2 linked regions of the Homo sapiens genome follow. The protein of the gene in region 2 purifies or fractionates together with the protein of the main gene of each other region. This does not show direct contact. Each region holds a gene or a part of one and is shown on either strand. Other genes may lie near its edges. The genes, in order: WDR37 and PACS2.

Evidence for each region.
Region 1: the proteins of PACS2 (region 2) and WDR37 purify together in Homo sapiens (affinity purification with mass spectrometry; 4 studies listed by BioGRID and IntAct, with this or other methods). This does not show direct contact.

What each region holds. Positions count from the first base shown.
Region 1 is NC_000010.11:1,050,151-1,065,419, reverse strand, and holds the start of WDR37 (WD repeat-containing protein 37), read right to left. Parts: upstream 9,036-15,269; 5' UTR 8,452-9,035; intron 1-8,451. UniProt on the Homo sapiens protein: Required for normal ER Ca2+ handling in lymphocytes. Together with PACS1, it plays an essential role in stabilizing peripheral lymphocyte populations.
Region 2 is NC_000014.9:105,305,685-105,320,548, reverse strand, and holds the start of PACS2 (phosphofurin acidic cluster sorting protein 2), read right to left. Parts: upstream 5,802-14,864; 5' UTR 5,631-5,801; coding exon 5,512-5,630; intron 5,228-5,511; exon of another isoform or gene 4,960-5,227; intron 1-4,959. UniProt on the Homo sapiens protein: Multifunctional sorting protein that controls the endoplasmic reticulum (ER)-mitochondria communication, including the apposition of mitochondria with the ER and ER homeostasis.

The sequences.
Region 1 (15,269 bases), on a different chromosome or scaffold from region 2:
CTACAGTATTTCTGAGTTTGCCTGTTTTGTATAACTTTTTAGTGGTAGCTCTAGGTTTTACATTATACATTTACAGCTTATTGTAGTCTACTGATTATCAACATTTTACCAGTTCACATAAAGTATACAAATCTTACTTTCCTCTATGCTTCTTTACCTTTCCCCATTTATAACGTAATCACAAATATTTCCTACACATACACTGAGAACCACACCACGGTTATGCTTCAAATTCCAAACACAATTTAGAAAATAAACGAATACTAAATTGACCGATATTTTTGCTGTCCATTCTTTGTTCTTCCCTCCTGATGTTCCCACATTTCTTTTGTCATTTCCTTTCTGTTTGGAGAATTTCCTTTATTTGTTATTTTCATAGAGTAGGTCAGCTGGAGATAAATCATGTGAAGGAAGTTTTCACTTGATATAAAATTCTGAGTTGATAGTCCTTTTCCTTCAGCACCTGAAAAAAATGTCCTGCCACTTCCTTATGCCCTCCACAATTTCTGATAAGATCCACTGTCAGGCCAGGCACAGTGGCTCATGACTGTAATTCCAGCAAGCGTGAGGGAGGCCGAGGCGGGCAGATCACCTGAGGTCAGGAGTTCAAGACCAGCCTGGCTAACATGGTGAAACCCCGTCTCTACTAAAAATACAAAACTAGCCAGGCGTGATGTGGCATGCCTGTAATCCCAGCTACTTGGGAGGCTAGGGCAGAACTGCTTGAACCTGGGAGGCAGAGGTTGTAGTGAGCTGAGATCACACCACTGCACTCCAGCCTGGGTGACAGAGCAAGATTCCATCTCAAAAAAAAAAAAAAAAAAAAAAAAAAAAAAGATCCATTGTCACTCAAATTGTTTCCCACTACAGGTCAAGTGGTATCTCTCTTACTATGCTTCTGTCTTCAGTTTTCAGAAGTTGGCCTGGATGTGTCTTAGCATCTTTGTGTTTATCTTCTCTGGGTTTATGCTGCTTCTTACGTCTGAAGGTGTATGGCTTGCCAAGTTTAGGAAACATACAGCAGTGATTTCTTCAGACACGTTTTCCCCCCACCCCGTCCTTCTCTCTTTCTAGACCTCTGATGACAGATGTTGCATCTTCTGTTAAAGTCCCACGGGCCCCTGAGGCTCTGCTCACTTTTTTCCAGTCTATTTTCTCTCTGCTGTTCAGATTGGGTAACTTCTATTGTTCTATCTTCAAATTGACAGCTTCTTTTGTCTGTCCTCTCCTTTCTGCTGCTAAGCCATCCACTGAATTTATTTCACATATTCTATTTTTCACTTTTGAAATTTTGTGTTTCTTTTTTACATCCTGTATTTTCTTCCTGAGGCTATTTGTCGTTTGTCTCGAATGTTAATTGGTTATTGAAGCATTTCTACAATCGCTGCTTTAAGGTCCTTGTCAAATAATTCTAAACTCTGTGTCATCTCTACGTTGGCATCAGTGGTCTTTTCTTACTGAGGTTGAGATTTTCCTATGAGTGATTTTCCATTGAAATCCTGACATCAGACTCAGGATCTGATGTAAGTCTTCTGTTAGAGCAGGCCTCTGCCAGGTGGATGTGGACGGTGAGGTGGAAGTTGAGATTCCCACTCAGCCTCCACGGACCCCTGCATGAGAAGGAAAGTTCAGCCTCCTGCCGAACTTCCACTCCCACCACCAAGGCTGAATCAGGGCTGCCTCCGTGCTGCTCCCTATACAGTCTCCCCCACACCACAGGGGGGTGGCCTCATGACCACAGGGCAGCAGTAAAGTTCCTGAGTTTTGCAAGGTCCCTCTTATGATACCCTAGCAGAAAGGAGGCTGTGCTCTGTCACCACCCAGCAGAAGTAAAACCCCAACTCCTCAGCCAGTCTTCTCTGACAGCAACCCTGCAGAGAGGAGCATCTCATCCCAGCTTGTCATGAGTGGGAATCTGAAGTACCTGCTCAGCCTCTGATTAGCAGGGTGAGGGTGGTGCTGCAGGGTTTCCTGTGATATTTAGCTGGAGGAAAGTACTTACCGCCGAAAAGTTCTCTGATTAGCAGGGTGAGGGTGGTGCTGCAGGGTTTCCTGTGATATTTAGCTGGAGGAAAGTACTTACCATCGAAAAGTTCTGTGATTTGTAGGCTGCCCCTTTCCTGGTCTTTCAGACACAGAGAGCAGGCTTTTCTTGGGCCTTGTTTTGTCTGAGTCCTTTTATACCTGCGCTGCTAGCTTATCCAGCACAACATATGAGATACATGAGGCAAAAAGAAAACTCACAGAACTAAGTTTGGTGTCATTTCTGTGGTCCCAATGTACGAAGGAAGTCTACCTTCTTTTCTCCATCTTTCAGTCTCTTTTTTTTTTTTTTTAACAGAGTGTCGCTCTGTTCCCCAGGCTGGAGTGCAATGGCACAATCTTGGCTCACTGCAACCTCCACCTCCTGGGTTCAAGCAATTCTCCTACCTCAGCCTCCCAAGTAGCTGGGACTACAGGTGCCCAACAGCACATCTGGCTAATTATTGTATTTTTAGCGGAGACAAGGTTTCACCATATTGACCAGAGTGGTCTCTAACTTGTGACCTTGTGATCTGCCCGCCTCAGCCTCCCAAAGTGCTTGGATTACAGGCGTGAGCCACTGCACCCGGCCCACTCTTACATTTGTTTTATATATGTCCAGTGTTTTTAGATGTACTTCATGGGAGGAATAAGGAAAAATAAGTCTCCATCTTTCCGCAAGCAGAAAGCCAAGAATCATCTTTTATTCTCAAATTGCATATGTGTAGGCCTATTTTTAAAGGAGAAGTAAGTCTTGCTTTACAACATAAAACAGTTACTTTGTAGTTTATGGAGTATGTTTTGTAAAGGAAAAAAAGAAACCACATCAAAAGCCTGTGAAAGCTGTCCTGATATGGCCTCAGAGAAAAAGGGAGACTCTATCTTCAGTTAAATGAAGCAAATAAAACCAGCAAAGGGTTTCCCTTCCCTCTCTTAAGAACTTCATCTGTAGAAACATTCTGATGCATTCCAGACATTCTACAAGTTCGTTACCAAAAATGCAGAGATTACAATATCACCTTTCCTTTCTCATCAAAATTATAAGTTTTGGATCACTGATTTTATCTCACTGGCTATTCCAGCCTCTCCGTAAGTTGCATGGTGTTCTCTTTGGTTTAGCTTGCTTTCTTCGCCACTTCACAAAATAGTCAATACCGCCGGCAATCTTTTTCTGCTGATCAACTACAACCAAATGTATGCATTTCCTACAATCACCTCCCTGGAACTTGGCACCAAATACAGATTTTTTCATACTGGAGTAATCTTATCATCTCTGTATTCACACCCTCCACATTTTTTCCCAGTGTCTGTATTGGTCCTATCACCACTTCCTTCCTTTCACACCACATCCTCCATGGAAACTCAGTCCTTGGCCCCCCCAAAAAAAAAAAAGCTCAAGACCAGAAGTGTTTCAGAATTCAGATGCTTTCAGATTTTGGAATATCCGCATATACATAGTAAGATATCCTAGGGATGGGACCCAAGGCTAAACTCAAAGTTCATTTATGTTTCATGTATACCTCATGCACGTAGCCTGAAGGTAATTTTTTTTTTTTTTTGAGATGACGTCTCCACTGTTGCCCAGGCTGGAGTGCAGTGGTGTTAACCTCGGTTCACTGCAACCTCCATCTCCCAGGTTCCAGCAATTCTCCTGCCTCAGCCTCCCAAGTAGCTGGAATTACAGGCACCCAACACCATGCCCAGCTAATTTTTGTATTTTTAAGAGAGACGGGGTTTCACCATGTTGGCAAGGTGGTTTCGAACTCCTGGCCTCAAGTGGTCTGCCCAGCTCGGCCTCCCAAAATGCTGGGATTACTGGCCTGAGCCACCACAGCAGGCCTCCTGAAGGTAATTTTATTTTGCCCTAGGGGATCCTGAATAAACTATGTTGCGCACCCACATTTTGACTACAACCTGTCTGTCACAAGGTAAGGTGTGGAAATTTCCACTTGTGTCATGTTATGGATTTTGAATTTTTGGATTAGGATGCTCAACCGGCGTAGCATAAATCTTATTTAAATGTTTAATCACCAGTTTAGGGGGTTTTCAGGTTGGTATCATGGGAAGAGGGACAAGGAAGTGGCAGGTGTTTGTAAAACTACTGAAATGGTATACCATGGAATCTAAAATAGACAGGAAGGGAAGTGAAAACAGAAAGAATTAATGGAGAGATACTGGAAGAAAGTTGGTGGACTGGCAGATCTACCAGAGGCTGAAGAGCTACTACAAAGAATTGCTGTAAGGCTCAAATGGATCAATAAATACAAAGAGTCACTAATCCTCATAACATCCCTATGAGACAGAGTTCCCAAATCCAATTAAGAGCCTTTCAACACAGTCATACATCACTTAAGGATGGGGACAGGTTCTGAGAGATGCATCGTTACGTGATTTCGTCACTGTGGGAACATCGCAGAGTACACTTACACAAAGCTAGGTGCACAGCCTACTCCACACCTAGGCTAGATGGCCCAGCCTGCTGCTCCTAGCCTACAACCCTGCACAGCATGTTACTGTACTGAATACTGCAGACAACTGTAACACAATGGTATCTATTTGTGTACCTAAACATATCTACACATAGAAAAGGTACAGTAAAAATAGAGTATTACAATCTTATGGGACCACCATCTTACATGAGGTCTGTTGTTGACCAAAACATCATTTGTTATGTGGCACCCGATTGTATTTAACAGACTAAACACTAATAAACTGATTATAGAACTGTAAAGAGAAAAAACAAACTTCTTCACTCCAAATATAACCTTCTTTAACCTCTATGCACTGTTTTACCTAAATACAAGCAAAGAGAAACCTGAGATTCCAAAACGTAATTATTTTCCTTCAAAATATTCACATTTACCCAATATTATTGGACAGATTACCATATTACAAAGAAGGCTTATGGAGATTAAATGTCCTTCTGGTTTTCAATAAAACATTATTTTCAAGAAACTATAAATAGTCCCCTCTAAAAATTCAATCTCTTTATCCTACCATGGATTTAACAGAATAAACGCTCCTTCTGAACTCCTGACTCATTTAGTCTGTCCAGTTCACCTGCCCTTAGTATATGTTGCCGTGTACGTAATACACCCCACTGCTTGTAAGCAGTCAGAACAACAGGCACACAGCTGTGATGCAGCACAGTGCTCTACACACAGCAGGCACTGGCCAAACATTCGACTAATTAATGAAACCCATAAACACACTGTGTTAGCAAGCTGAATTCCTCATCTTTAGAAATGCTGTAATATTGGGCCAGGCATGATGGCTCATGCCCGTAATCCCAGCCTTTTGGGAGGCCCAGGCAGGCGGATCACCTGAGGTCAGGAGTTTAAGACCAGCCTGGCCAACATGGTGAAGTCCCGTCTCTACTAAAATACAAAAATCAGCTGGGCGTGATGGTACACGCCTCCCATCTACCCTGGAGGCTGAGGCACGAGAATTGCTCCACCCTGGGAGGTGGAGGCAGTGGTGAGCTGAGATCATGCCGCTGCACTCCAGCCTGCGTGACAGAAATGCTGTAATATTAAACAGCATCAATGAACACTTAGCTTTCTGCTCTTTCTCAAAAGATTCTTTTATATATATATTTTTTGAGACAGAGTCTCGCTCTGTCGCCCAGGTTGGAGTGCAGTGGCGCGATCTCGACCCACTGCAACCTCCACCTCCCGGGTTCAACCAATTCTCTGCCTCAGCCTCCTGAGTAGTTGGGGTTACAAGCACCCACCACCACGCCTGGCTAATTTTTTGTATTTTCAGTAGATACGGGGTTTCACCATCCTGGCCAGGCTGGTCTTGAACTCCTGACCTCATGATTCACCTGACCCAGCCTCCCAAAGTGCTGGGATTACAGGCATGAGCCACTGCGCCTGGCCAGATTCTTTTCAATATTTCCAATATTAATTAATTTGTAGCTATAGAAATTATCATTCTCCTAAGTGTGTATAATTTGAGGAAGGCAGATAACATAACCAAAGTAGCTTGAAACAGCAATACGACAAATTCTTTTCTTTTTGACACAGAATCTCGCTCTGTCTCCCCAGGCTGGAGGGCAGTGGCGTGATCTCGGCTAACCGCAACTTCTGCCTCCTGAGTTCAAGTGATTCTCCTGCTTCAGCCTCCTGAGTAGCTGGGACTACAAGTGCCCGCCACCATGCCCAGCTGATTTTTGTATTTTTAGTAGAGACGGGACTTCACCATGTTGGCCAGGGTGGTCTTGGACTGCTGACCTCAGGTGATCTGCCCACCTCGGCTTCCCAAAGTGCTGGGATTACAGGCATGAGCCACCACGCCCTGCCAACAAATTCTTAATTTACACTTTCATTTGAAACAAAAAACACAAAACATTACTTTCAGTTTCATATCCAGTAGGATTTTAAACATTTTTCTTTCATCAAAGCAAAAACACTTGCTTAAGTGGTTAATTTCACAAATGTTAATCACATGCAAAAGAATGGTTAAGGAATATAATGTCCATGTGGCATTAAAAATAAATTGGAGAAATAAATTGAAAATTGCATAAAATGTGATGGAATTTCCACCAGAAGTTTAATCAAGTTTGTAGTAACATTTTATCGTAATAACACTGTTAGACGAATTCCTAGTGGGCTGAGACACCAAATTCAACTTCTGAGCAATATCGAGGAAGAGAATGGTCTCTACAGGCAACCTCAGAAATCTGTCATCAGTATTAACCTGCTTAAAATGTTTTGTCATTGACGAAATGAAGGCATGGAATACATACACCATCAATTCTGTGGATGACAATCAATTAGGAAATACCATTAATCAGATAAATAGCCATCAAGATTTTCAAAAGATCTCAGTAGTTAAAAGAACAACTTTAAACCAAGGATGAAATTCAACAGATGTAAAATCTTTTCCCTGAAAAGAATAAGACAGGATAAATATGAAAACTCTATCTTAGTTTCACCTTGGGGAAAGGGACTTAGGGATTTTAGTTCAGGGCAAATGCCCAAAGTGAACAGCCTAACATAGCTACCCAAAAAGAGGAGGAGGGAAACACACTCACTCAAGATCTCCTGTATACAGCACTTTGCAAAAATGGCTGGCATATATTACATAACGTAACCTTCCCAGTAAGAAAATGAGGCTGATATGAACACCATGTTAGAGGACAGGGAGTCGGGACTTAGGAAGGCCTTGCCCAAGGTCACACTGCTGTTGAGACGTGGCCAGTGCACACGAGTCCCTACTCTGTCTCCTGTGAGCAGTATTAATAGAAAGGCAGCGTCTAAACCCAGGGGATAACAGATCACTCCATTTGTTCCACATTGGTGAGTTCATATTTACATACCGTGTTTAACTCCTGGGACATATCAAAAGCTATTTTGAAAGACTCGAATTTGATCAGGAAAGTAACCAGAACAGTGTGTGTGTCTGCTGGGGTTGGGGGAAGTTCAGAAGACGAAGAAAGTTCCTGGAGATATAACTATCTTGAGCTTTCTCATTCAGAGGTAAATAATTCCTGCAATACTTTTATGACCGTAACTCACAGGCCAACATACTGAATTTAAGAGAAAAACACTTGAACTTCAATAAATGAAACTTCCAAGCAATTAACACTTTTCTATAATGGTATCCGCTTCAAGGGACGAATGTTTTAGCGTTTAAGTTAAATGACAAAATCTCTAAAAACCTGGCAGACCTTAAGCTATTTTCACTCACAACCTGGAAAAATGTATTTATTCAACTTGGTTTAGTAAATGAGTACATTATTATTGTTGCTCTTGTGTTATTCCGGTGAACAGCTGTCTTAAAATGTTTCCCTCCAGCGGTGGCTGCTTTCAGGGGGAAGGGAAGGAAAAGGAAGTCTTCAAAAGGGGAACAATATCATGGCGCTGTGTTAATCACTTCAGCATCCGTCACTCCACACTCACCACCCTTCTTGAAGCCGACCATCCCCACTCTTTGGAGAGAAGAAAGGCCATTCTCCTCTCTGAAGGGCCTCCCAAGTGCTTCCCTGGAGACGCACTTCCCCGGGATGCCCAGGCCGAAGCAAAGGGGGCGGGGAGAGACCCCGGGCCGAACCCTTCTGCCCCCAACCCCTCCAGCGCCCCGACTCTTCCTGGACTCCGACATCTTCTGCACCGCCCCGGGCCCCCATCCCTCCCGCACCCTGGTCCCTCTGGCACCGCCACGGACTACTCCTGCGCCCCGACTTCTCTTGCACCCTGAACCCTTCTGCACCACGGCCCTTCCTGCACCGCCACGGGTCCTCCAGGGACCCGACCCCTCCTGCACCACCACGGACCCTCTGCATTCCAAGCCCACCTGCACCCCATCCGCCACTATGCCCCGACTGCCCCTGCACCCCCTTGAGCCCTGCAGTGTCCCGACTCCTCTTCGGGGCATCCGGGGAACGACTCGGCGCCTGACAGGTAGGAAGATGGCGGCACTCACCTGTCACAGCAGCTGCGCCCGCCACCCCCGGAGCCAGCCCAGGTCGCGCACCGCCAGTGAGTCCCTACGACGCGGCCCCCCGTACTGACCCGAAGACGCGCAGGACACCGCTGTCTCCGCACTGACGCGACCCCACAACCCCAACCTGGCGCTAATGCACTTCCGGTGTCGCCGGAAGTCCCGCCCCAGTCCCGCGCCGCTGGGTTCTCCGGAAGCCGCCCCACACCTCCGCCCCACACCCGGCGGCGCCGGAAGTCACGCCCCGGCTTCCGCCCCGCAGCCCCGAGGGGTCTGGGCGCGCTGAAGACCCCTTCGGCTGCTGGGCCAACGCCCCCACCCTTGGTCACGTACTCCTGCCGCCGAGCGGTTCGCGGGAGGTGGCCTCGGGGGTCGTAGCTACTCACCGGCGGGGCGCTCCGAGTCCATCTGCCCCGTAGCCCGGCAGCCGGGGCGGGAGGGCTGCGAGCCCGGGGCGCGGTCCGCCTGAGGCCTGAGACCCGGGGCCGCCTGCGCTCAGGGCCGCGGTGCCGGCCGCGCGGGAGCCTGGCGGGGACGGCGCGGTCAGTGTTCGGCTCCTCCGCAGTGACTCACCAGCGTCCTGAAGCTTTTGATCACCATTGGCTGGGAAGGAAAAACAGAATCAGCTGTTCCCTGCGAAAGGTGGGACTTGGGCCGCTTTTTTCTTAGAATCTAGGTTGGAAACGTCGCATGATGGTCTTTACGTAAACAGCCGTCTCAACGCTCTACAGAAAGCGCTAACCGCGCATTTGAAGCCCACCTAGAGTAAATCAAGAGCGTGAAAGCATTTTTTTTTTCTGTGTAGGTTAACATTCCTGCTCCTTCCTTTAAAAAGGAAGCTCAAGGCCAGGCGCGGTGGCTCACGCCTGTAATCCCAACACTTTGGGAGGCCGAGGCCGACGTATCACGAGATTAGGAGGTCGAGACCAGCCTGGCCAACATGGTGAAACCCTGTCTTTACTAAAAATACAAAAACTAGCCGGGCGTGGCGGCGCGCGCCTGTAACCCCTGCTACTCGGAAGGCTGAGGCAGGAGAATCGCTTGAACCCGGGAGGCGGAGGTTGCAGTGAGCCGAGATCGCGCCTCTGCACTCCAGCCTGGGACAGAGCGAGCCTCCGTCTCCAAAAAAAAATAAGGAAGCTCAAGATGAAGAGTCAGAAGTGGTAACTTGTTTGTTGCACAAGAAACAAATTTAGCATTCTATTTAGGGGATCCAGATTACCAAAAAAAAAAAAGAAGTGAAGTTATTTCTGCATTAAGTATATTAATAAAACTTTATCACTAAAAACAATTCTGTAAGAGGAACGCCAAGGAAAAAAATATTTGAGTTTTTAGAGAAGTCATTTTTTAAACTTTTAGAGGTTGTGACATTTAAGTAACATAATTTTATTTAGTACCTAGTATGCAAAGACATTGTACTGGGCATGGCAGCAAATAGAAAGCTTTGTAAATCGCAGTGTCCCATCTAATTAACCCGCATTCTAACAGGTGGTTTTATTTTTCTGGACCGCACCACAGTCAGGTAACACCAAGAATATCGCTAATGTAATTTTTTAAGTTGATATATTTAGGATTCCATAAAAGTCACTGAAAATAACTGAGAGCATGACATGTCACAAAACAAGGGAAAGAAATCATTTTGAGGATCAGTCGCTTTACATCTTTTGTAACTAATTTAATCCCCAAAGGAATCCAATAAAGTAAAAGTTATTCTAAATTGAATTTTAAGCATGAGAATGTGGAAATTACTCGTCAAAAGTCAAAAATAATCGTGCAGCAGGGCAAAGACTAAAGGCTGGCATCAGAATCCATATTCTTTTCACTGTTGATGTGCTAGGGCTGCAGGAACAAAATACTGCAAACTAGGCAGCTTAAACAAATTTATTGTCAGAGGTCTGACTGGAAGTCCCAAATCAAGGTATTGGCAGGGTTGATTCCTTCTGAGAGCTGTGATGGGAGCCTGTTAATGCATCTCAGCGTCTAGGCATTCCTTGGCTTGTGGCAGCATGCCCCCGCCAGTCTTCACATGACGTTTTCCATGTCCGTGTCTGTCTGCACACTTAGCGTTCTTTTTATGAGGACATCAGTCATATTGGAGTACAGTAGACGCTACTTTAATATGACCTCATGTTAACTAATCATATCCACAACAACCCTGTTTCCAAATAAGGTCACATTATAAAATACTGGAAGTGAGGTCTTTAACACATGAATTTGAAAGGGGGACACAATTTAACCCATAACACACTGTATCCTGAAATAACTATCCAATGTAATTTTTTTAAAAGACACAAAACTAGCCGAAATTATAAAAGGTTATGATTGCAATCCTGGTATCCAGTTACATTCTCCCTCCTGCAGAAGCTGTGGAGAATCCTGTCTCAGAAAACCAATTTCTATTTTGTCACATGTCCATCTATGCAAAATACATGTACTTTGTCCCTGACATAGGGCAACAATGCTGAATTTACTAAGACTCATTTTTGCGCATGGTTTGATAGGGAATTAAGATTTACTAGGTATTCTGTCATTGTCCTCATTACTGATTATTTTAACTGTGTCTCAAACACTTGGATAGTACACTATAGTGTTATAAGCTGTTTGACATGTCGCTTCCTAAATTCTCAAGTTATATATATGTGTGTATATATGTCATGTAACAGGCACAACTGTTTTCATGTGTATCACTTTATTGCACTTCACAGGTATCATATGTTTCTTACAAAGTGGAGGTTTGTGGCAGCCCTGCATGGAGCAAGTCTGTCAGCACCATCTTTCTAACAGTATGTGCTCACTTCATGTCTCTCTCACATTTTGGTAATTCTTGGAATGTTTCCGTTATTAAATCAGTTATAGTGATCTGTGATTAGTGATCTTTGATATTACTGTCATAATTGCTTGGGGGGCACCATGAACCACCCCTATATAAGACAGCAAACTGAGTCGATAAATGTTTTATGTGTTCTGACCACTGCACTGACCAGCTGCCTCCCTATCTCTCTCCTTCTGCTCAGACCTCCCTATCCTTGAGACACAGCAATACTGAAATTAGGGGCCAGGCATGGTGGTGGCTCATGCCTGTAGTCCCAGCTACTTGGGAGACTGAAGCAGGAGGATTGCTTGAGCCTAGGAGTTCGAGGCTGCAGTGAGCTGTGATCACGCCACTGCACTTCAGCATGGGCAGCAAAGCAAGACCCTGACTCAAAAAAAAAAAAAAATCAGGCAATTAATAGCCCTAAAATGGCTACTGTTTCATAAAAGAATGAGTTGCACATCTCTTACTTTAAATCAAAACTAGAAATGATTAATGATTAAGCATGGTGAGGAAGGCATGTTGAAACAGCTAAGTCGTGAATGCAAAGGAAAAGTTCTTGAAGGAAATTTGAAGTGCTCCTACAGTGAATACACAAATGGTAAGAAAATAAAACAGCTTTATTGCTGATATGGAGAAACTCTGAGTGGTCTGTATAGATTAAACCAGCCACAATATTCTGATAAAGCCTAATCCAGAGTAAGGCCCTAACTCTCTTCAGTTTTCTGAAGGCTGAGAGAGGTAAGGAAGCTACAGAAGAAAAATCTGAAGCTATCAGAGGTTGGTTCATGAGGTTGAAGGAAAGAAGCTGTCTCTATAATACAAAAGTGCAAGATAGGCCAGGCATGGTGGCTTATGCCTGTAATTCCAGCACTTTGGGAGGCCAATGCAAGTGGATCCCTTGAGGTGAGGAGTTCAAGACCAGCCTGGCCAACATGGTGAAACCCTGCCTCCACTAAAAATACAAAAATTAACTGGGTGTGGTGGCACACGCCTGTAGTCCCAGCTACTCAGGAGGCTAAGGCAGGAGGATCACTTGAACCCAGGAGTTGGAGGTTGCTGTAAGCCAAGATCACACCACCACACTCCTGGGTAACAGAGTGAGACTCCATCTCAAAAAAAAAAATGTGCAAGTGCAAGATAAAGCAGCAAGTCATCTAGGAGATCTACCTAAGATCACTGATGAAGACGGCTTTGCTAAACAATAGGTTTTCATTGGAGTTGAAACAACCTTATTTTGGGAAAAGATGCCGCCCAGGACTGTCATAACTAGAGAGGAGAAGTCAAAGCCTGGCTTCAGAGCTCCAAAGGACAGGCTGACCCTTGCTAGGGGGCTAGTGCAGCTGATGACTTTATGTTGAAGCCAGTGCTCATTTATCATTCTGAAAATCCTAGAGTCCTTAAGCGTTATGCTAATTCTAGTCTGCCTCTGCTGTGTAGATAGAACAACAAAGCCTAGATGACAGCACATCTACTTACACAGTGTGGTTTACTAAATATTGTCAGCCCACTGTTGTTGAGACCTACTGCTCAGGAAAAAAAAAAGATTTCGTTTCAAAATATTACTGCTGATTTACAGTGCTCCTGTTCACCCAAGAGCTCTGATGGAGATATACAAGGAGATTCATGTTGATTTCATGCCTGCTAACACAACATCCCTTTTGCAGCCCATAGCTCAAGAAGTCATTTTGACTTTCAAGTCTCATTATTTAAGAAATACATTTTGTAAGGCTATGGCTGCCCGAAGATGTAACTGAATCACTGCACTAGCATAATAAAACATGAATGGATAAGCAGTTGCTTCTTGTGGATGAACAAAGAAAGTGGTCTCTTGAGATGGAACCTAATCCTGGTGAAGATGTGAACACTGTTGAAATGATAACAAAGGATTCAGAATACTCCATAGACTTAGTTTATGAAGTAGCAGCAGGGTTTGAGAGGATTGACTCTAACTTTGGAAGTTTTCCTGGCCGGGTGCGGTGGCTCATGCCTATAATCCCAGCATTTTGAGAGGCCAAGGTGGGCAGATCACAAGGTCAGGAGTTCAAGACCAGCCTGGCCAACATGGTGAAACCCAAGCTCTACTAATAATACAAAAATTAGCCGGGCATGGTGGCACACGCCCATAGTGCCAGCTACTCATGAGGCTGAGGTAGGAGAATTGCTTGAACCCAGGAGGTGGAGGTTACAGTGAGCCAAGATCGCACCACTGCACTTCAGCCTGGGCGAAAGAACGAGACTCTGTCTCAAAAAAAAGTTTTCCTGTGGTTTAAAAAAAATCTTTCATGAAAAGAATTGTCAATCAACGTGACAAATTTCATTATTGTCTTATTTTAAGAAACTGCAACAGCCACCCCAACTTTCAAGCACCACCTTGATCAACAGCCATCAACATTGAGGCAAAACCCTCCACCAGCAAAAAGATTATGACTCATTGAAGGCTCAGCTGATGGTTAGCAGTAAAAAATATTAACTTTAATCATCTCGACCATTCAGTACTCATCTAATATTCTCTATAACAAAATGGGAAATGCACATAAAGCACTTCTGCTACATGCTGAATTATGATTGTTGTCTCCAGGAAAAGAACTTGTGGGAACGTTTGAGTTGTAAGCTGAACTAACTAGCTGCTTTTTTCATGAAATACCGCTTTTACTGGAAAGAACTGACAGATAAACTGAGGTATTCAAACCTAGATATTTGGCAGACATTTTCGTGAAAATAAATATGTTCGTGCCACTTCAAGGAACATAATTCTCAGTACTTGTTGCCAATAATGTTGGAATTTTCATGCAAAAATTCAAATAAAAAACAAACTTAAAACCATCAAGAACTTGGTGACTTTATGTGGAAGCCAGTGCTACAATACTTTAGCTTCCCAATACTTAAAAACTTTTCTGATGAGATTACTAGTGATATTAACAATGTGATTGATATTGAATAATGAAATGTTTTAGCATTTGGAAGATCTGTTTAATTCAGTAAATCAGTATTTTCCAAATGACCAATGCATGACATTTCAACATCACGCACAGGAAAATAGGCATTCGAGGTACAGTCAAAAATAATGAGTTTTAATGTAACAAGTACAAAATGTCCATTGAAGTGGTTTCAAATTCCAAATAGTAATTGGAAAATCCACCACTCGTGTTTTGGGGTAGTAGTATCGAAAAAGAATAACCAAGATAATTTGAAAAGGCTATTAAAAAATACTTCTCAATTTTCAAACTGCATACAGCAGGTGCTCATTCATTTCTTTGTAACATTGATGAGAAAAAGACTCCCAGCCAGGGGCACTGTCTTTGTGGTGTTTACGTGTTCTCGCCACACCTGCATAGGTTTTCTCTGGGTGCTGCAGTTCTTGCCACATCCCAGAGGTGTGCACGTGAGGTGAACTGGTGTGTCTTCACTGTCCCAGTCTGAGTGTGGGTGTGTGAGTGGCCCTGTGATGGAATGGCGTCCTGTCCAGGGCTGGTTCCCTCTTTGTGCCCTGAGCTACTGAAACAGGCTTCAGCTACACATGACCCAGAACTGGAATAATTAAGTAATAATTATCTTTTTATTCATCTTTCTTAAATGTATGTATAGCTCACATTTATTTCAATGTTTAATATTAGAATACTTTGGCCTTTAGAAGCTTAGTGATTTTTTTTTTCCTTGGCCAGAAGTATGCTTTAGGAACTTAATCCTTATTTTTTAGCCTCTGGTAAAATTGGTTTTGCTATACGTTGTTTCACTTAAAAGTCCTGATTCCCAAGAACGCACTGACAGCAGTGAGGACTTGCTGCGCATGCGGGAGGCCAGATTTTCTTATCTGTGTGAAGCCAGACATGAAAGAGATCTGTCAACACATAAAACAAAATCAAAGTCTGTTTTTTGTCTGGAAAAGATTTTTAATAAAAATATAACTTATGTTAGTGTCGTGTGTTTTTTAAGTGAATATTTTAATATGTTTAATTTCTATGTTAGTAAATAGCAGTAGTAAACA
Region 2 (14,864 bases):
CAACATAGTGAGACCCCATCTCTACAAAAAATTTAAAATTAGCCAGGCCAGTGGCATGCACCTGTAGTCTCAGCTACTCAGGAGGCTGAGGCAGGAGGATTGCTTGAGCCATGGTCACACCACTGCACTCCAGCCTAGGCAAAAGAGCAAGACCCTGTCTCAAAAAATAAATACATAAATAAATATATATCCACCAATTTTTAAAAAGGGTAATACAACATGCTTAAACTAGTATTTTTCCAGGAATAGGTTAATGTTAGAAAATCAATTTACGGCCAGGCATGGTGGCTCACGCCTGTAATCCCAGCACTTTGGGAGGCTGAGGTGGACGGATAACAAGGTCAGGAGATCGAGACCCTCCTGGCCAACACGGTGAAACCCCGTCTCTACTAAAAATACAAAAATTCGCTGGGCGTGGTGGTGCACACCTGTAGTCCCAGCTACTTGGGAGGCTGAGGCAGGGGAATTGCTTGAACCTGGGAGGCAGAGGTTGCAGTGAGCTGAGATCACGCCACTGCACTCCAGCCTGGTAACAGAGCGAGACTCTGTCTCAAAAAGAAAAGAAAAGAAATAAAATCAATTTATGTAATTTACCACAATAGTAATGAAAAGATAAAAATTATATAATCCTCTTAATGAAAGTACTTGATTATATTCAACATCCACTCATAATGATTTCTTTAAAAAGCCTTTGCAAGTCATGAATAGGATGAGACTTTTTAAGTGCATAAAGGCTATCCACAAAAAGTTGCAGCAAACATCGTCCTTAAAGGTAAAACACTGGAAACCTTCCTTAAGGTCAAGACAGAACACGGGTAATCCACGCAACCAACCATATTCAACACTGTACTATGACAACTGGCACAGTCAGGCAAGAGAAAGAAAGAAAAGTATGAGGATTGAAAAGAAACAACTTTGTCTTTTGCAAAAGACAAAACATACATTTTGAAAATACAAAATAATCTATAGATAAGTTACTAGGTTAAAAATAGTAAAATCACTGATTTCTTTGAAAAATCAACTGAATTTCTATATGTTAGCAACAAACATAATAAAAAGCTGACTTTTACTATGACTTCTAAAATACAAGCATCTAGGAATAAATGTAACAAAGGATATGCATGACAGCAGAATCTTGTAAAACTCTCAAAATACATTCAAGACCTAAGTAAATAGCTTGATCATGAATGAGAAGACTCAGTACCACACAAACGTCAATTCTCCCCAACCTGCTCTACAGAGTTAAAGAACTTCCAATTATAAACCAAATGTGGCTTTGTGTGAAACTTAAAAAGATAATTCTGGCTGGGCGTGGTGGCTCACGCCTGTAATCCCAGCACTTTCAGAGGCCAAGGCGGGCGGATCACGAGGTCAAGAGATCGAGACCATCCTGGCCAACATGGTGAAACCCTGTCTCTACTAAAAATACAGAAATTAGCTGGGCGTGGTGGTGCACGCCTGTAGTCCCAACTACTCAGGAGGCTGAGGCAGGAGAATTGCTTGAACCCGGGAAGTGGAGGTTGTAGTGAGCTGAGATCGTGCCACTGCACTCCAGCCTGGGCGACAGAGCTTCTCAAAAAAATAAAATAGGCAGGGCGTGGTGGCTCACGCCTGTAATCCCAACACTTTGGGAGGCTGAGGCGGGCGGATCACGAGGTCAGAAAATTGAGACCATCCTGGCTAACACGGTGAAACCCCATCTCTACTAAAAATATAAAAAAAATTAGCCGGGCGTGGTGGCGGGCGCCTGTAGTCCCAGCTACTCGGGAGGCTGAGGCAGGAGAATGGTGTGAACCCAGGAGGCGGAGCTTGCAGTGAGCCGAGACAGCACCACTGCACTCCAGCCTGGGTGACAGAGCGAGACTCCATCTCAAAATAAAATAAAATAAAATAAAAATAAATAAATAAATAAATAAAATAAAAATACAAAAATTAGCCGGGCATGCTGGCAGGCGCCTGTAGTCCTAGCTACTTGGGAGGCTGAGGCAGGAAAATCGAAACAGGGAGGCGGAGGTTGCAGTGAGCCGAGATTGCACCACTGCACTCCAGCCTGGTGACAGAGTGAGACTCTGTCTCAAAAAAACAAAACAAAACAAAAAAATTAGACAGACATGGTGGTGTACACCTGTAGTCCCAGCTGCTCAGGAAGCTGATGTGGGAGGACTGCTTGAGCCCAGGTTTTAGGGGTTACAATGAGCCATGATCAAGCCACTGCACCCCAGTCTGGGCCACAAAGTGAGGCTCTGTCTCTAAAAACCAAACAGATGGCCAGGCCCAGGGGCTCATACCTGTAATCTCAGCACTTCGGGAGGCCGAGGTGAGAGGATCACTTGAGCCCAGGAGTTCAAGACCAGTCTGGGCAACATAGGGAGACCCTGTCTCTGCAACAACAACAACAAAATACATAAATAAAAACAAATTAATAAACATCAACCGAAAAAACAATCAAGTGGGAAGGGCAAGGTACAAAGCAGCCCAGCCCTTGCTGAAGAGCAGGTGGGGGCGCTCAGGGACATGGGCACCAGGAGGACACTCTGGGAACCCAGGAGGCAGAGGCCACAGACAGGCACTGACGCATACCCCGTGGACCACCTAGGAGCACCGTGTGTAACAGTGCTGAGCCAAAAGCGTCGCAAGGAAACCCGGAGCACAGGCCTCCCCAACAACAGCCCAGCATGCCCAGTTCAAGCTCCCGGGGGCAGACTTCTCCGGCTGCCTCCCAGAAGGAGAACCGAAACGAGACCAGCACCCCAGCCTGGCAAACAGTCAATGTGCACACTCCACCAGGCTGACACGGGGAGTGCACCCAGAGGCTGCTCAGAGAGCAAAGACTCGCTCATAACTGGACGGGGACATCCTCAACACAGCCGAGAAAGGATGACTATCTCTAAAGAAACTGCTGAAACTCAAGCAGAAAAAAAGAGAAAAAAAAACTGGCAAAGGAACAGGAATTTCACTGACAAGGAAGTACAAATGGCCTAAATTAGTAATCAGAGAAATTCAAGTTAAAACCACGATACCACTTCACACCCACCAGACTGGCAAAAATTAAGTCAAATGAGTGTTGGCACAAATGTGGAGCAGTGGGGACTCTCGTCCCTGTCAGTGGGGGCCGGAGCAGGCACAACCACTCTGGAAAACTGCCCAGCAGTAACGCTGAGTGCGTGCACACCCCCACCATAAATCCTGGTAGCTGGCGGTACATGCTTAAGACAGGCCCTGCCCATCCAGAAAGACACACGCAGAAGACTGGCACACGATGTCCACAGCAGCACGGGGCTTGTAATTAACCAAAAAACTGGAAACAAGCCAAGGTCCCTTGACAGAAGCAAAGCCGAGGTACTGTCACGCCAGTGAATAGTACGCAGCAGTGAACACGCCGAAAGGCATCAGCACACACGCAGCCCAGAAGCTTCATGGCTGGGCAAAAGTGAGGAGTACAGAAGAACTCAGGAGGAACAAAGCAAAACTAAGTAGCAGACTGTCCGAGGATGCACGGACAGGCGGCACAAGCACAAAGCAAAGCTAGGGGCAAGCCCGCCTATGAGGGGCCCTGTTCCAGGACAGGTAAGGGCAGGAGCTCATTATGAGGCTGAGCATGTCCTACGAACAAACTGCATCTGCCCACCTGGTCAGCTGCGCCACTCGCCCCTCCGCCCATTAACTCCTCCGCCCATTAACTCCACACCAACAGAACAAATCCTGTCCTCCTGCCTACCCTTCCTCCCAACCCTGTCCAGGCCAGAGCTCGGGACCCCCCCCAGCACTTAGTGCTACCCAGCCCAGGTGCCCCCATCTACCCCCGCCTGTCCTAACCAGGCTTCTCGAAACCCGCCCTACCCATACCCTCCCCACAGACACCAGAGTGGGCTTTCTAGACCCCTGGAGAATAGAGCACAGCTCCACAGGGGGGCTGATAAGGCCCCCGGCCCCTCCTGCCACACGCCCCCACCTCCCTTGGGTTAAAGACTTTGCTGCTCATTCGGAGGGCCCCAGGAAGCTGCTGCAGAGGTTCAGCAAGGGCAGGCTATGTGCTGCAGTGCTGGAGCAGGGGAGCGCCAACAGCCCGCATGAAGGTTCTGGGGCTGTGGGTGAGGCAGTGACTCAGAGGGGCAGACAGGAGAAGGGCTGTGGGGCTGTGGGACCTGACATTGGGGCAATCGCCAAGACCTGGAATGGAGAAGCAGCCAGGCCTGGGGAGATGCTCCTGGCTTTGGCTTTGAGGCCCCAGAGACTTCCCAGAAGAGAGGCAAGCAGGCACATCTGCAGTGCTCGGCCCCAGACCTTGGGCAAATGCTGACCCTTAGGTCTCATATGGACACTGGGTCCTTCGGGAGGCCCCGCCAGGTGCAAGAGTCGTGCCGGGTGGGCATCCTTCCTGTCCACTCAGCAAAACCAAAGCCCCGAGGTCCCAACCCTGCGCTCCAGGAGGGCAAGCCCCACTGTCCAGCGGCTCTGCAACTCCAACACCACGCTCAGAGATGCAGGCTGTGGGAGCCACAGGAAAGCACGGAGAGGCCCACCTGCAGCTGACTAGGGGTGGAACAACTCAATGCCACGTGGGGTCCCCTCCAGGCATACTGGCCACTTCCAGTGCCTGGAAGGTCCGCTCACCCTCCCATCTCCCCAGGGAGAACTCTCACTACCCCCAACCGCCTCCTCTTCTCGCCTGCTGTCTATTCTAGAACCAGAACTTTTCCGGAGAGCGTGTCTCTCTCCTCCTTAGCCTGGGAGCTTCCTGAGCAGGAACTACCAAGTCACGAAGAAATTACAAAAGTTTCAAACTGAGCAGGAGACTCAGGGAAGCTGCAAGTCCAAGGAAGGCTGGGCTATGGCCGGAGGGTAAACCCTGTCCAATCGTTACCGCTGGGCGACCGGGCGCCCCCCTACCAAGTGCAGAACAGCCAGTCTTCCGCAATGGCAAGATCAACTGGGAGGCGCAAATAGCAGTACTGGCTTGGCGACGCCTCTAAATGAGAGACAGCGCCAACCAGGTACCCGCGAGGACGACCCCGCCCCGCAGGACAGGGCATCTCCACCGCGCGCTGGACGGAGGATACAACCGAGTCCTGCGCGCCCCGTGCGCCGGGGGTCGCTCCCAGGCCGAGGTCTGACAGTGTCGCCGAACGCGAAAGGAAGCGTGTGGTACCCGAGAGAGGAAGCACCCTCGTCACCCCGGCCGGCACCGCATTGAGGCAGGTGTGCAGGTGCGGTTGCGGCGAGCCAGGTGAGCGCCGCCCGGGAGCCCCAAGGTCCCGCCGGGTCTGAGCAGCACCGGGTCCTCGGAAGCTGAGCGCGGCCCCCGGTGCTCGGGACCTGGGGGGCTGGGGCCGCGCTTGCCGGAGCTGCGGGGGGGCGGCGGCTGCACGCGTCGAACCGGCGGGCGGGGGCGCGGGGGGCGACCTGGGCTCCGCTGGGGGACCCGGGCCGGGGATGGGGCGCGCAGAGGCCGCGGCCAGGACACCCCCAGCAGGTGCCCGGCGGGAACAAAGCGCGGCGGGCGGCGCGTACCTGGGCACGCAGCTGGGGCTGGAGCCGTCCACCTCCCAGGTGGCGAACAGGTTCATGGGCACGGGCGTGTTGAGCGCGCCGGGCGCGCCGGGGAGGCCGAGGCGGCCTCGCTCGGCCATGGCGCCGGCCCCGCCGCTCCCTCGGCGGCCTGGGGCTGCGGCCGGGCCGCGGACGCGCGGCGGGCGGGCCGGGCGCGCGGAGGGCGGCGGCGCGGTCACATGGCTGCCGGGCGGCGGAGGGGACGGGCCGGGCCCCGGCGTCGGACAGGCCCGCGGGCGGCGACGAGCTGCGGCCGCTCCGCCCCGCCCCGCCCGGCGCCCCGCCCGCGCCCCGCGCGCCCCCGGCCGCCCCGCGCGCGCCCGGCGCCCTCCGACCCGCGCCGGCGCCGCCGATTGGCTGGGCGGGGCGCCAGCTCGCCGCCTCGGGTCCAATCGCCGCCGGCGCAGCGCGCGCCGGAAGTGAGGTGCGCGCGCGCTTCCTCCGGCGGCGCCTCACGGGGCGTCCCCGCCCGCCGGTGCGCGAGAGCGCGCACTCACGCGCCTGCGCACAGACCCCGCCCGGGGCGCCCCGCCCCGCCCCCCGGGAGCCGCGGGCAAGGGCCGGGAGAGTCGTGGGGGTCCACCGGGTCCCGGCCAGCTTCAGGCGCCGCCCCCTAAGGAAAGCTCATCGTCGCCCTGGCGATGCCCACCTCCCCACGCGCGGATTCCCCGGCCTCGACACTTTCCCGCCTCCACCCCGCCATGCCCCGAGTCTCCCCGCCCCCCTGCCCTCGCCGCCCCTTGTCTCCTGCCGACCCCCGCTGGGTTGGCCCGGCTGTGCGGGCCCCGCCCGTCCCCGAGCCCCTCCCTCGCGCCCCCCTGCGTGGGTTCCCCGGGACGCAGGGAGGTGGCAAGGAGGTGGCCGGGCCTGGCGGCGGTCGCGGGGACTCGAAGCCACTCGGGGCGCCAGGCTGCCGAGCTTAGCCTCCAGGGCTCCAGATGACCCCGGGCGCCCTCTTTGCGTCCCAGCATCCTTATTCAGCGCCGCTTTTCAGCGTTGTGCTCAGGACAATGGAGAACAAATGTCTGGGGCCAAGGCTGGCTCCTGGCCCTGGGGTTAACAGTGAACTTGGGGACCCAAGCAAAGAGGAGGCAATGGCTAGAGCCGCTGGGGCCCGACGTGTAGGCTCTGGGGCTCAGGGAGGGTGCTTCCCCCATCTGTTTGGCAGCGGCTGTGGTCCAGCACCAGATGCCAAGCCGAGATTTAGGAAACGGTTTTCTGGCCTCTCTTCTGTTTCCTTGTTTCACAGTTAGTTTACAGTTGCTTTTCTCTTCGCCCTGTGTCTTGTCTACAAGTAGTTTTACTGAAACAAATCCAGCCCGAGCAAATTGACCTGGAGCTGGTTTCTTTCCTGGCCCACGGGGCTTGCCACCCCAGTGCCCCGTCAGCTCCTTCTGCAAAGGCCCTCATGCCGCTGCTTCCTCCGTTGAGAGAGCTCAGCCTCCAGCTGTAACTCCTGTATCTAGAACTGCAAACAGCTGCGACTGCTTAAAGTCAGGGTCCCACTTCGGAGAGAACAAGGGACTCTGTGTTTCCCACGCGCCCCTGGCTCCTCTAAGGTGGTACACTGAGAGCCATGAGGGTCTGTCTGACCTTGGCCAGCTGCTCGGCGGGCAGAGGGCCGGTGGATCTCATACCTTTGAGACAGGGTAGGGGGAGAAGTGACTATGTCCAGAGAGGGGGTAGCCATACCCCAGGAGGACAGGCTGTCTGTGATGGGAGGGCAGGAGACAGGCACCCATTGACCCCAGAACTGAGCGTACGGCGCTGCTGGACCTGGCGAGCGTGCAGTTGCAGTCAGACGGATGGGCCGCCTGACACATGGTGCCTGTGTATGCCAGCGTCTAACCCAGGCAGGGACTACAACTGGGGGTCAAGTGAGGAGATGCGGGGTGACTAAGCCGTGCACAGCAGGGCTTGGCACCAGCTGCCACCATTGAGCGGTGCCCCTCCTCTGTGCCAGGCACCGTTGTGAGCCCTTAAGGGACGTGACAGTTCTGTCCCATCCCAAGTGACAAAAGAGGAGATGGCGGCCTGTGAGGTTATGCAGCTGCCAGGGGTCGGGATATGACCCACACAGTCTGTACCAGAGTGGCCCGAAGAACCCGTATGGTGGGTCTACATCAATGCTTCTGCCAGGCAGGAAAGCAGGGACACGAAACACACCATGTGTCACGCCTGCGACCACGTTTATGTTTGTTTTTAAGGTGGGATGGTGGTGATGGGACTGTGGTCTTCTGTATTTTCCAAGTGCACAGATGTCCCTTGGGTGATCAGAGTAACTTTTTAGCCAGAACTTGTTATTTGCACTGCCCTCCTCTGTCGGAAAATGATGCTGTGCTGGTCCTTCTCTTGAGGGCTGTGGGTCACAGGAGGAGATCCCCTGAAGGCTGGGAGGCATCCCTCCCCATGCTATGACCCTGGCATGGTGTGAGCCCTCACCCCCGTGTTTGGAGCACAGGTGCTTTCTCTGGTAGCGTTTTCTTTAAAGCAGGAACTTGGTTTGAGACAAACCTCTCGGATGACTGGGGTGGCTGGGCACGGTTGGGGAGGAGGTCCAAGAAGAGGATCCTTCAGAGCCCTGGGGTCTCAGGAGGACAACCTGAAAGCTGGTCCTACCACGTGCTGCCCGGGGTCCCCGGAGGTTGTGGGAGTTATTATTATTTAAGAAGTTAAAGCTTCAAGGTTCTGAATGCTTGGCTAGGATTCCATTGGTATTAAAAAGACGAAGCCCCAACCCCCAGTCATGGGACAGGATGGGCCGAGGCCTTTCCTCTGTCCGCCTGGCTTCGCTAGGTCCCTCCACCTAGGGTGAAGGCTCAGGCTTTTCCAGTCGGGCGCCAGGACCATGGGCTGCTTGGAAACGCATTCATCTCCTCAGCCTGGGCTAAGATGACACAGACACACAGCAGGCCCTGCTGAAGTCGGGGAGTGGGGGAGGGGCCTCCTCCAGGGCCAGCACTGGTCAGTTGGCGGCTCCAGCCCACAGCGCCCCTACTCCTTCTCCTGCCAGGAGCTGGGCTGAGGAAGCAGCCCCACGTGGCCAGGTCCCTGCCCAGCCCATGCTATGGCAGAGGGACAGAACTGCCGAACCCCTAGACAGGCCCTGCCGCATCCACTCCCATGGTTGGAGCACATGGCCATGACTGAGGCTGAGGAGGAATGGTCACAAAAAAGGTACAGCAGGGCCCTCCTCCTGGAGGCATTTTCTGGGAAGCCATGTGGGGGATGGCCAAGAGCTCTAAGACCGCTGAGATCGCTGCACCCGCAGCCGCACCTGTGGACAGTTCCCACGGTCACCCTTAGAGCAGCTCAACTGCTGAGAGTGAGGCCTGGAATCAACCCCGGGGTTGTAGAGTAGAACAGGGTTAGGTGAGCCATGATAGAACCTGATAGAATATTCTACAGCTGGCAGAAATAGTGAGTTAAAAGTAGCTAAAAACAGGCCAGTCGCAGGGGCTCACACCTGTAATCCCAGCACTTTGGGAGGCCAAAGCGCACAGATCCCGTGACCTCAGGAGTTCAAGACCAGCTTGGGCAATATGGCAAAGTCCCATCTCTAACAAAAATACAAAAACGTACCTGGGCATGGTGGTGCGCATCTGTGATCCCAGTGACTTGGGAAGCTGAGGTGGGAGAATCACTTGAACCCAGGAGGTGGAGGTTGCAGTGAACCAGGATCACACCACTGCACTCCAGTCTGGGGGACAGAGCCAGGCTCCATCTCAAAAAATAAAAATAAAAAGGCCGGGCACAGTGGCTCATGCCTGTAATCTTAGCACTTTGGGAGGCCGAAGTGGGTGGATCACCTGAGGTCAGGAGTTTGTGACCATCCTGGCCAACATAGTGAAACCCCATCTCTACTAAAAATACAAAAAATTAGTGGGGCATGATGGTGCGCGCCTGTAATCCCAGCTACTCGGGAGGCTGAGGCAGGAGAATCGCTTGAACCCAGCAGGCAGAGGTTCCATTGAGCCAAGATTGTGCCACTGCACTCCAGCCTGGGTGACAAGAGTGAAACTCTGTCTCAAGAAAACAAAAATGTATGTGAAAATGCATGTCCATGTGCAGTATGTATTTACATGTTAGTGATTATACATATAAAACACCTATTTTCAGGTATAGAAAAATATTGATAGGATACAAATTAATCCAAAGTGTTAAGAAAGTATCTCTGTGTGATGGGGATTCCATTGATTTGGTTTCTCCTTTTTGCTTATCTTTATCTCCTATTTTCTCCATGATGAACATGTATTAATTGTGTAGGGAAAATCAAACCACAGCAGGGTGAGCTGCCGCTGGCTGGAGAGCCGGGCGCCATCTGGCTGGGGCTGCGCCCCGTCCTGAAAAAACCAAACGTGCAAAGGGAACCCTCACCCAACGCAACAAACTATTGAGGATGATCTTTGTAAGAATACTGAATGTTTCACTAGGGTAACATTCTTTTTTTTTTTTTTTTTTTTTTGAGACAGAGTCTCGCTCTGTCTGTCGCCCAGGCTGGAGTGCAGTGGTGCCATCTCAGCTCACTGCAAGCTCTGCCTCCCGGGTTCATGCCATTCTCCTGCCTCAGCCTCCTGAGTAGGGGGGACTACAGGCGCCTGCCACCACGCCTGGCTAATTTTTTGTATTTTTATTAGAGACGGGGTTTCACCGTGTTAGCCAGGATGGTCTTGATCTCCTGACCTCATGATCCGCCCGCCTCGACCTCCCAAAGTGCTGGGATTACAGGCGTGAGCCACTGTGCCTGGCTCACTAGGGTAACATTCTTAATATCAAAGGAAATCATACAAGTCCATAAGACCACTAAAAAATTCCCAGTGGAAAATGGTTAGAGAAGCTACAAAAGATTCACAAAAGAATAAGTGAGACAGTTGTCACTACTATCACGAATTGTAAATTATAAAAAGATGCACATGGCTGGGTGCGGTGGCTCATACCTGTAATCCCAGCACTTTGGGAGGCCGAGGCGGGTGGATCTCCAGGTCAGGAGTTCAAAACTAGCCTGACCAATACACTGAAACCCCGTCTCTACTAAAAATACAAAAATTAGTCGGGTGTGGTGGCGGGCGCCTGTAGTCCCAGCTAGTCGGGAGGCTGAGACAGGAGAATTGCTTGAATCCAGGAGGCGGAGCTTGCAGTGAGCCGAGATTGTGCCACTGCACTCCTGCCTGGGCAAGAGAGTGAGACTCCGTCTAAAAAAAAAAAAAAAAAAAAAAAAAAAAGACACACATCACCACCTTCTCCTTAATGCAGGCTAATCTAGACCTAATACAGACCTAAGGTCGTGATGACATCCTCGGTGTCCTGCACGCTGCTCCCCTCCTGGGTTGGGCGCAGGCAGCGCAGCTCCCTCACACAGCACCTGGGGCAGGACCCAGAGCAGCTCTGCAGAGTGGCTTGGCAGCGTCTTGGGAGATTTGCCTGGGCTCATGGGTATCCCATGGCATCCTGCAGGTGACACTGGAAATGTCAACAGGGACACAGGTCCAGGTGTGTGAGATATTTCAAACAGCAACACCTACAGAAAGGAATGTCCAGTCCAGGGGAAATGACAAAACTTGCCCTGGCACATCCACCCCATGGGATGTGGAATAACCAGCAAAACGGAACGCTGCCTCAGTTTTAGCAACATGGGGAAATTCTCAGATATGTGATTGTGTGACAAATCAGGGTGTAAAGTTGAACACAGCATGACCTGGATTCAGGAATAAAACTCTCCCCTCTTGACTGTGGTTATCCTGAGCCCCAAGATTAAGAGGGACCTTGATGCATAAATTTTAACACTTCTTTCTTTCCCACAATAGAATATCATCACAATAAGCCAGGACATAACTTAAATATTAGAAAAGAAAGGAAAACACCCAGGCCCTAATACAGAAATCAGCCAAGGACATTCACAGACATCAGAACAGCAATTACCGCAACACGTGTCAACCAACACTCAACCTCAGTGCTCTTCGTGCAGGATGGATTTCTGGTTTTGTTAGGTTTTGTTTGTCTTTTTCTTTTTTTTTCTTTTGTTTTCTTGACAGGGTCTTGCTCTGTCAACCAGGCTGGAGTGCAGTGGTGCCATCATGGCTCACTGTAGGCCAGATCTCCTGGACTCAAACCATCCTCCTGCCTCAGCCTCTCAAAGTGCTGGGATTACAAGTGTGAACCACTGTGCTGGGTCCCTAAGGGTTTTAAAAAATTATTTATTTATTTAGAGACAAAGTCATGGCTGGGCACAGTGGCTCATGCCTGTAATCCCAGCACTTTGGGGGGCTGAGGCAGGCGGATCATGAAGTCAGGAGTTCCAGACCAGCCTGGCCAACATGGTGAAACCCTGTCTCTACTAAAACTGCAAAACTTAGCTGGGCACAGTGGCTCATACCTGTAATCCCAGCTACTCAGAAGGCTGAGGCAGGAGAATCACTTGAACCCAGGAGGCGGAGGTTGCAGTGAGCCAAGATTGCACCACTGCACTCCAGCCCGGACGACAGAGCAAGACTCCATCTCAAAAAAAAAAAAAAAAAAAGACAGAATCTGCCTCTGTCGTGCCCAGGCTGGAGTACAATGGTGCCATCTCAGCTCACTGCAACTTCTGTCTCCTGGGCTCAGGCAATCCTCCCTCTTCAGCCTCCCGAGTAGCTGGGACCACAGGCATGTACCACCACACCTGGCTAATTTTTGTATTTTTGTTAGAGATGCTGTTTTGCCATATTTCCCAGGCTGGTCTCAAACACCTGGGCTCAATCAATCCTCTCACCTCAGCCTCCCAAAGTGCTGGGATAACAGGTGTGAGCCACTGTGCCCGGCCTAATTGTTTTTTTGGGGGGGACAGAGTCTCACTCTATGGTCCAGGCTGGAGTGCTGTGGTGTGATCATAACTCACTGCAGCCTCAGTCACCTGGGTTCAAGCGATTCTCCTGCCTCAGCCTCCCAAGTAGCTGAACTAGAGGCACGCACCACCACGCACAGCTAATTTTTAAATTTTTTGTAGAGACAGGGATCTCACTTTGTTGCCCAGGCTGGTCTCGAACTCCTGGGCTCAAGCTATCCTCCCACCTCTGCCTCCCAAAGTGCTGGGATGACAGGCGTGAGCCACTGTCCTGGCCTGGCCCTTGACTTCTGTGGTGGAAGGTGGACTGGAGCCTCACCAAGTCTCACTCGAGTTGCGGAGAACAGACAGGAACAGGGACTTGCCTTCTGAGCAGTCTGTCTACCAGACACATGTCCTCCATCATACTCCGCAGTGCTAGGGTGGGCTATTCTTATCCCTGTTATGCAGATGAGGAAGTAGAAACCTAGAGAGATTGAAGCACTTGCCCAAGGCCAGGCAGCAGGTGAGAAGGTGAGAAGGCCATAGAAGCTTGCTTTCTCATTTCCCCTGCTGACTGCTGCATGGGGGGACAGGGCTATTGAGTACCCAGGAGTTATTTTGATCAAATGTGATAAGATGACAGACACAGAGACAACCGCCTTTGAAAGAGGAGTTTATTACTCACAGTTCCCAGGAGGAGGGGCACGTGGGGAAGCACCCAGGGCCAGTCAGGACAGGGAGGGGGTGAAGGGAAAGGGTGGGCAAGAGCCTTTATTGCCATTTTCCAGGCAAGGCAGAGGAGGCAAGCTGAGCAGAATTAGAACTGGGTCATTTCAGTGGGCTCTGGGCTTGGGGGTGGTATCTAGCTAGCTGGTACCTGGCCTTGGGGTGATTTAGGGCAGGGGGCTAGTGTTCAGGAATGCAGGAGCCTGATGAAAGGAGGCAGGTGGGACTCATGATGGTTGCTCTGCATATCAAAGGTATGCTCAGCCTGCACGGTGGCTCAAGCCTGGGATCTCAGTACTTTGGGAGGCTGGGGCCAAAGGATCTCTTGAGCCCAGCAGTTTGAGACGACAGTGAGCTATGATCATACCACTGCACTCCAGCCTGGGTGACAGAGTGAGACCCTGCCTCAAAAAAAAAAGAAAAAAAGAAAAAATAAAGTAAATAAGGCATACTCAGAGGCAAGTGGTCAGCTGTCTCTAGGAATTAGCTAACCCTGGGAGGGGAGTCCCTCTCTAGGTCCACGAGACCCCAAGATGTCAAAGCACCACAGATGAGAACACGATGGGGCTTGGCACGGTGGCTCACGCCTGTAATCCCAGCACTTTGGGAGGCCAAGGCAGATGGATCATTTGAGGTCAGGAATTCAAGACGAGCCTGGCCAACATGATGGAACCCTGACTCTACTAAAAATACAAAAATTAGCTGGGCGCAGTGGCAGGTGCCTGTAATCCTAGCTACTTGGGAGGCTGAGGCAGGAGAATTGCTTGAACCCGGGAGGTAGAGATTGCGGTACATCAAGATCGTGCCATTGCACTACAGCCTGGGCGACACAGCGAGACTCAGTCTCAAAAAAAACCCCCAAAAAACAGGCCAGGTGTGGTGGCTCATGCCTATAATCCCAGCACTTTGGGAGGTTGAGGTGGGCAGATCACGAGGTCAGGAGATCGAGGCCATCCTGGCCAACATGGTGAAACCCCATCTCTACTAAAAATACAAAAAATTAGCCGGGCATGGTGGCATGCACCTGTAATCCCAGCTAATCGGGAGGCTGAGGCAGGAGAATCGCTTGAACCTGGGAGGCAGAGGTTGCACTGAGTCGAGATGGCGCCGCTGCACTCCAGCCTGGGGGACAGAGCAAGACTGTGTCTCAAAAACAAAACAAAACAAAACAAAACAAAACAAACCCAAAAACAAAAGACACCATGAATGAAGAAAGCCTCCAGGAGGGGAAGTTTGCAGGTGCCTAGGCGTGTCCTTCAAAACTCTAACCCTGCTGGTCAGGTCATTTTTCTCAGGCCCTGAGAAAAGGAAATCCTTCCTGGTCTAAGTGTTACGAGCACGTTCAGTTCAGATTAAAGCAATTCTCTCATTTCAGTGCAACACCTACATTACTTTCCAGCTCTCTGGGGCCCCCATGAAGGAATGTTCCTGCCCCACACCCCCAGCCTGGGCCCCGCTCTGCTGCTGTGTGCTGGAGTCAGGTCTAGGGGCAAGCCCACAGCCTCTCCCTGTTTACAGCCAGAGCGGAGATCACTGCACGTTTCCAGCGTCCTCTTTGGCGCGGTGCGAGTGAGGGTCCTGCCTTGCAGGGCTGAATGAGGAGTACAGAGGACCCTGGGCACAGGAAGCTGGTGCTGGGTGCCCAGTGTGGGTGCTCTGAGGGCACTGGTGCCCCTTGGCCGCCCTTGCTTGACTCTTTGAGCTTGTCAGTCAGTCCTAAATGTTTCCAAGCTTCCTGGGGCGCTTGCAGCATGGGGCACCTAACCGGTCCCCAGGGCAGTTCTCC